Homo sapiens: one gene and its partner. The protein of the gene in region 1 interacts with the protein of each later gene in a pairwise test. Each region holds a gene or a part of one and is shown on either strand. Other genes may lie near its edges.

The links.
Region 2: the proteins of ZNF267 (region 1) and ADORA2B interact in a two-hybrid assay, tested with the Homo sapiens proteins (one large-scale study listed by BioGRID and IntAct).

The regions. Positions count from the first base shown.
Region 1 is NC_000016.10:31,872,587-31,876,876, forward strand, and holds the start of ZNF267 (zinc finger protein 267), read left to right. Parts: upstream 1-1,220; 5' UTR 1,221-1,380; coding exon 1,381-1,383; intron 1,384-2,565; exon of another isoform or gene 2,566-2,716; intron 2,717-4,290. UniProt on the Homo sapiens protein: May be involved in transcriptional regulation.
Region 2 is NC_000017.11:15,968,904-15,972,715, reverse strand, and holds part of ADORA2B (adenosine receptor A2b), read right to left. Parts: intron 3,128-3,812; coding exon of another isoform or gene 2,953-3,127; exon of another isoform or gene 2,780-2,952; coding exon of another isoform or gene 2,748-2,779; intron 1-2,747. UniProt on the Homo sapiens protein: Receptor for adenosine. The activity of this receptor is mediated by G proteins which activate adenylyl cyclase.

The DNA of each region.
Region 1 (4,290 bases):
TCCTCTCCCACCTTCTACTCAGCCAGAAGACTAGGAGAATCTACTCAGCCGGAAGACTACGAGGTGCTGCAGCGCCACTAGCTCCAAGACTCCAGAAAAACAGGAATAGGGCATTCTGGCAGGTCAAAGCAGACAGAATACTTGAGCTCAGGAGTTGGCGAACTGACTATTAACCTGTAGCCCCAGTTACTTGGGAGGCTAAGGTGGGAGGATCGCTTGAGCTCAGGAGATGGAGACCAGCCTGGGCAACATGGTGAAACCTCATCTCTACAAAAAATACAAAAATCAGCCGGGCATGGTGGCATGTGCCTGTAGTCCCAGCTACTCAGGAGGCTGAGGTGGGAAGATTGCTTGAGCCCCGGAGGCTGCAGTGAGCCATGACTGCACCACTGCACCAGCCTGGGCAATAGAGTGAGACCCTGTCTCAAAACAAAAGCAAAAACCAGAGGTAGGGCTGAGGAGTCCGTGGCCACAGAGCCTGAGCCAGCACGGCCCAGAGGAACTGAGCTCCCAGCCCTGTCGCTGCCAAGGACCCTTCTTCCCTGAGCTTGAAGGGATTGAGAAGGAGAGACAGACGGACAGTCAGCGGCCCCGTTACCAGTGATGCAGACTCCAGGAGATGCGGGCAGAGTTGTAGATTAGAAGAATAGGCCAGCCCCTCTTCCACGTTCCACCACGGCCCGCAACATCCTCCTGGGACCCCAGCCTGCATGCCCCTATAAGATGCTTTTGCACTGGTTCAGTCTATGTATCATGCGAGGGCCTAATTGAAAACACGTGAATGAAGTGTACGGCCTTCTGTTCCCAGCTGAGGGGCCCCCTCCCACGGTGGCGTTAGCAGTGGGGTACAGTGCGGTAAGAGAGGTGCTAAGGGACGGGATGAGGGTCTTTCTTGCTTTAAAGGTGTCTAAATATACTTCTTCTTAAACTTAATTAGCTAATAAGATGTCTTATACAAGCAGAACCAGGTAAGGGAAAGAGCAAGTGTATTTCAAGTCGCAGCTCACCCCTTAATTAGCTGTAATACCCGCAGCAGGCGGCCCCACCTCAATGAGCCAGTCTCCCTTTCAAAAAAAAAAAAAAAAAAGGCACTAATAATGAGGGGGCGGGGCATGGAGCTTTATCCAATCAGGGGCGCTGGAGTGGAAACCGTCCAATCAGGAGTGAAGCCGGAGAGCAGGGGCGGCTTCCGGGATTTGGCGGGGGCCTTCGTCGGCTCCAGTTAGAGCTCGGGTCTCCTCGCCACAGCTCCGAGTCTTTCGTTCTGGGAGGCCCAGGCGGCTTCGCGTTCTGAGAATAAACAGAACCTCTGTTGCTCTGCGACTTGCAGGCACTGGGAGATTCGTAGCTAAGACGCCAGGGCATCCCGGAAGCTGGGAAATGGTGAGTGTGCGGGGTCGGGGGTCCCCAGAGGGAGGGAGGGCGGTGGTCGGAAGCGGCGGGAACCCGCTGTAGGGGCACCCGGGCCTCCCCGCAGTCAGCCTCGGGGTCTGGGCCCCGAGTCCCAACTGGTGCAGCTCGGCCCTCGGTCCCCTCCGCTGCAAGATGGCGGCCAGGCCGGCAGCCGGGACCCCGCGTGTCCTGTCCCATCCCGACCCCGCAGAGCGACCTCGTCCCTGGCCGGAGCCCTCTCTGGGCAGCTCCGCGTCGCAGCCCCGCGTCTCCCCCAGATTGTGCGGTGAGGACGGGAGCGTCTCAGGGGAGACCCAGGTTCGGTGTGTGGGAAGAAACCGTGCCCTGTGGGGTCCTCAGTCACTACTCCTCTTAAGAATTAAAGGGAGTCACTGTTAAAACGTTGAAGAATTTGAGCAAATAGCGATTTGTGACATGGGAAGCCTGCAGTCCTGGTTTGTGGTTCGGAGATCCCCAGAGGGGCTTGAAGGAAAGGTTTTTATAAGGTGCATGAGGAAGCAGACCAAATTAACCGATGGGTTACAGTTTGTAGTTGCCTTATTTAGACTATGCAGGTGGAGGTGAATTGGAGCTTTGTGGTTCGTTAAGTCTGAATTTTGTTTTCCCCTAAAGTTGTAATTTACAAGAAAAGCATTTGAGTTTGGTTTTGGTTTTTCTCCCTAGAAACCTGGGGCACTATAACCACTTCCGTATAATCGCCTGCTCATTAATCATCTTAACACTGCCCAGGGGAACTGGTTTTCCCCCTGCGCTTTCCTAACGTGTAGCACGCAGAGTCTCAAGTCCACCACTGTGTTCCCCCAGTCTAACTGGGCTTGCAATAAAATATTAAATTTCCAGTTCCTTCCCGACATTTCCAAAGGCCAACTTCCCCTCTCCAGTTCACATTCTTAACTATTGGTCATTTATTGTACATTTCAGACAGTATTTTACTCATTAATCATGATTTCACAGAGCAGTGGATGACACTTTTTTAAAGATTTGTGTTTTTTTGGCATACATTTCACGTGAGAGGAAAGCAGAGAATAAAAAATCCCTGACACTCCACTGCAAAAAAAACTGTGCCTCTTTTTCATTCATCTTCCCCAGGCACAGACACGTTATCGGAAAGAATGTCTTTTGACTTGAGGTTTTGCTTTGGAAACTTTACAGGGCCCTGTATAGCCACCCTCTATCCAGTCTTTTCCTGTTCCTGAATTTCAGAACTGTCTGGGATGACTCAAGATGCCCACAGTGGCCATGTCTCCTGGAGTGTTTAGTGACTGTCAGCCCCAGGTCACCTCCTGTTAGAGGACCGCCCAAGGTATGGAAATGTAGTCCCTCAGGGGAGCAGCTGGATGCCCTGGGGCTGAGAGAAATCTCCTGGGACACCCTTAACCTAAAAAGATAACCCCTTGGGACATAAGGATTTTATTTCTTCAAAGCTAGTTTTCATCCCTTGGAGACACATTGCTGGTCAGCCAATCGTTTGCTGGTATTGAGGGGAAACAGTCACAAATGATTCCTGCCCCCTAGATTCATTCAGATTTGTGAAGGGAGAAAAACTCCCAAAGGACCAAAAAACAAAAACCCCACCCCAGTGAGGTGGTGCAAACTCGGCTGCGGTGTCCATGGGGCACAGTGCAGGATCTGGGAGGATGGTCCCTGAGCATTTTAATGAGCAGTATTGGGGTAGGAGAATGTCTCAAATGATACCGTGACCTGACTTGACACTTGAGCCAGATATGTCTGTATTCCAACAGCATTACCACTCCCTGAGTTTGCTGCCTTAGATTGTTCATTTATTTCTACTTCAGTTTTTCAGTTAGTGTAAATTTCATCAGTAGAGCTTGAAAGATAAAAAACATTTCCAAGGCCATGAAAGGTGGATTTCAGAAAATTAAAATATCAAGTCATACTTCATTGTTAAAAATTCTTACTATCTTTTTTTTCAGCAGAATGAGTGTAGTAAGTTTCTCAGGTTTGTTCTTTTTTTGGGAGTAATTTAAAACAGAATCTCAGGGCTCACCTTTTGGAAATGCTGCCAGGGAAAAGAAACAGAGAAAATCTTTCTTTCATTATTGGCTGTAGAAAGTGAATACATTTTCACAACAACGTGTGGTAAATTGGTGAATTACATAGTTTCATCAAAACATCAGTTTCTTTTTTTTGTAGGGTGAAGAAGTTATGACAGTGGATATCTTTGTTCTTTATCCTCTTGTCTGGATGTTGAGTTTATTTTTTATTTTTTGTTTTTGGAGACAGGATCTCTCCTCTGTCACCCAGACTGAAGTGCAGTGGTGTGATCACAGCTCACTCAACCTCCTGGGCTCAAGTGATCCTCCCACCTCAGCCTTCCAAGTAGATGGGACTTACAGGGGTGCTGCGCCATGGCTGGCTATTTTGTTTTTTCTTTTTGTAAAGATGTGGGTCTCACTGTGTTGCCCCCAGAGTGGTCTCAAACTCCTGGGCTCAAGTGATCCTCCCGCCTTGGCCTCCCAAAGTGCTGGGATAACAGGCATGAGCCACCATGCCTGGCCTTGGATGTATGGCTTTAATGCTGAACGTAGCACTGGCTAGAATTGTTTATATATGATTATTTACTAAATGATCTGTTATCATGGAAATAAGTAAGTGGCCTATTTATTGTCTGAAAGGGATAGATACTTTAGTGTTTTCTGTTGAGGTATAAATTATAAAGGCGTTTCACTTTCCTTTATTCTATAAACACTGTTTGAGTAGTTTTGCTTTCTTCCAACACTGGGCATTCTCATTGAATACTAATTGAATAACCCTGACTGGGAAGCAGAAGCCTGAGCTCAGAGAGTGCAAACTAACCTGGTCTTGAGCCTGCAAGAAGAGGTCACTGAAGCCCAGTTAGTTCTTCCAGGGGAGTTT
Region 2 (3,812 bases), on another chromosome or scaffold:
AGGGACAAGATCCTAGTCCTTAAGAGGTTTGACCAGTATCCAGTTGAGAGATACAACATGTATCAGATAAGCAGGCTCTATGACAAGTGAGTTATGGGGCAAGAGAATGGGAGCGGCCACCTCTGCCTAAGAGGTGACCAAGAAAGGAAGTGACCTTATAAGAGCAACAGATGCCATAATATCCCTTTTAGACATTTTGCTATACACTAGTCTATCCATGGTTTATAGCAAAGGTACACATTTTGTTATTAACAACTGGTCCATAATACATATGTAATGTATAAATGAACATAATCAATGTAATGTATTAAGTAAATGAAATAAAATCCTTCTGTAATCTCTGGAAGAGAAAACTGGGAAATAATTTGATTGACATTACCTGAAGACTTGCCCATGGGAAGTGTTTGTTTGCTTTACCTGCAGTGTAAGACGTATACTTCCCAGCATGGCCGCAGAACCCCCCAGCCTCGGCTCCACACGTCCAGTGCCTGCCATTCTTAACCAATGGCTCCCTCTGGCTCATGCTATTCTCAACATCAGACAAAGCATCTGTTGCTCTTAAAAGGTCACTTCCTTTCTTGCTCACCTCTTAGGTAGAGGTGGCCACTCCCATTCTCCTGCCCCATAACTCACTTGTCATAGAGCTGGCTTATCTGATACCTGTGGTATCCCTCAACTGGAATGTCAGCCTCTTAAGGACTAGGACCTTGTCCCTTTGTATTGGTATCCCGAAGACCTAGCACAGTTCCCAGCACATAGTATGTTCTTAATATGGCCATCACAGGCCAGGCATGGTGGCTCATGCCTATAATCCCAGTACTTCAGGAGGCCGAGGCAGGCGGATCACTTGAGGTCAGGCATTTGAGACCAGCCTGGCCAACACGGTGAAACCCCGTCTCTCCTAAAAATACGAAAATTAGCTAGGCATGGTGGTGGGCACCTGTAATCCCAGCTACTCAGGTGGCTGAGACAGGAGAATTGCCTGAACCTGGGAGGCAGAGGATGCAGTGAGCCGAGATCATTACACCATTGCACTCCAACCTGGGCGACAGAGTGAGATTCCATCTCAAAAAAAAAAAAAAAAAATGGCCATTACAAATACATTCATCATTTATTATCTGACTTTATTAGGCAGCTTTAAAGAAAGATTCTACTTACTAGGAATACTTGAGGTTGCAGCCTGAACAGGCAGAAGAACCAGTCGTTTGCTGAGGAAGTTAGCTGAGGTCTTGCCTCATAATTTACAATGATCTCTAATCTTTTCTACTCCCTCTTAGCAACAGGCAGCTCAATCATGGGCCCCTATACTACAGAAGACCTGCTGGGCTCAGTTTTTTCACTGAATTTGTCTTGGCCAGTGAATTCATCTGTTTCCCACCTCATTCAGGAATGTAAAGCCTTCCTTAAAAACAGTTGTTCTCTGCCATTGCCTCACTGGAGATGTGAATAACACAATTAGTCCCTGCAGCATAACAAGGAAGCCTCCCAAAGGCGGAGTCCTAAGAATCACAGAACTTCAGGTCCATGAGGCAGCCCATGCAGCAGCCTGCCCTTACTCCTCCTTTGTTCACAGGACTAAGCTGTATCGAGTACAGCGGGTAACAGGTCAGCTCTGGGGGATGAATTTATGTTTGGGATAAGGAAATTATGGCACTTCCATTCTCATGATTGGTCTAGTGGATACATGAAGTGGTTCTGGCCAGTGAGACATACAAGGACATCTGCTAGGGACCTCCAGGAAAGATTTTACTCCCTGATGAAGAGAGAGGGACCCATAAGGACAGCTCTGCCCCATGACCATCCTTTTCTGCTTTTGATGCTCTTGTGGAAGGGTGTGATGCCCTCAGCTGTAGCAGCCACACTGTGACCATAAGGGACAAGCCTGGAGACAAAGCTGATGGCAAAGCAGAAGACAATAGTAGAGCCTGGGTCCTTGATGACACCTTTGAACCACCTGACTAACCCTAGAACCATCACAGCTCCATATTCTGGTTTCAAAAGATAATTAAATGTTTCGATTGCTGATAACACTGTGAGGTACTCCGTTAACACAGCCAAACTGGAGAGGACTTTTATCTTTCTAGTCCAATCTCTCTTATTTCACAAATAAGAAAAGAAAACAAAGAAAAGAAGAACAAAGCTAATACACAAACCAAAGACCAGAAGCTAAATCAGTACTCACAGGCCTGTGTTCCTTGCACTATGTTATGCTGCCTCTTTTTTTTAAAGCGATTTTATATTTGCAGCACCCTGTACATAGAGGCTCATTCATAGGGGTGGCTTCCTACTAGAGTTCAGAACAACAACTGGAGTCCACCCCATCTGAACTTCTCATAGCTGCTGGATCCGACACATGTGCAAAACTGTCATGCCTTCTCTTGGATAAGGAAAAGCAGCTAATTAAATCAGTGGGGCAGCTGGTCACTGCCTTCTCTGTAAACCTCCATCACCACCACTCTTCCCTGTTGGTTCATTAGTTCATTCGAAGAGTTTTTCATTTGTACCACACATTCTGCTAGGCACTGGAAACACAATCACTGCCCTTGTGGAACATAAGCTAATGGGAAACACAGAAAATAAGTAAACATATAAATACGAAGTTATGAATTGCGACGGGTTCCGCTATACCAAAATGAACTGGATGCACTGAGAAGAGAAACATGGAGGCCTTGGATACAGGATGTCAGGAGGCCTTTCAGGCAGAAGCTAAAGGTTGAGGAGTGAGAAATTTGAAAAGTAGAACATACCAGGCCGAGAGAACAACATGTGCTGCTTTCATGCAGGAAAATGAGCCCAAGATGAGGCAGGGGCCAGTTCATAGGCACCGGGACCCATGGAAGACTTTTAAGCAGGGGATGGTACTGATTTCTGTTGTATAAAGGTCACCTGGCCAGAGTACGGAGACTGAATTTTAGGGGAGCCAGAAGAAAAGCAGAGAGATCAGCTAGGAAACTATTTCGGTAGTTGACTCGAGACAACGTCGGCTTGGGCCAGGGTGACAGCAAAAATGATGGAAGTGGATATGCGCTGTGGAGGCAGAACCAACAGGTCTTGCAGATCAACAGGTGCAGGAAGATGAAGACTGGAGGATGATTCCTTAGGGTTTCCCCCTACGCATTTGCATTTCCTGAAAGAGAGGATTAAAGGAAGAGTGGGATAAAGATCAAGAGAATGGTGGATGCGGGCACACTGCTGAAAATGATCAGTAGAGAAGATGCAGGAAAAAGGGACAGATTATTATTATTATTTTATTTATTTATTTTGAGACAGAGTCTCACACTGTCGCCAGGGCTGCAGTGCAATGGCGCGTCTCAGCTCACTGCAACCTCTGCCTCCTGGTTTCAAGCGATTCTCCTGCCTCAGCCTCCCGAGTAGCTGGGACTACAGGCGCCCACCACCACACCCGGCTATTTCTTTTTTTGTATTTTTAGTAGAGATGGGTTTTCACTGTGTTAGCCAGGATGGTCTCGATCTCCTGACCTCGTGATCCGCCCACCTCAGCCTCCCACAGTGCTGGGATTACAGGCGTGAGCCTCCACGCCCGGCCAAAGGGACAGATTATTAAAGAAGGTAAGAATGGGAGGAGGTGGAGGATGCAGGGTCCAGGGCATGTGGGGAAGGACACTTCCTCAGCTGCAGTGGAAGGAAGGACAAGAACAGCGCCAGTGCAGGGAGTGGGACAGTTGAGTGGTGAGAAGATGGGCCAGCATCTCCTTGAGAACTGCTGTTACCTCAGAGAAGGATGGAGAAAGTTATCAGCTGAGGCAGGGGAGGAACCGCACAACCAAACCCCAAGTTTTGGTGACAGATGC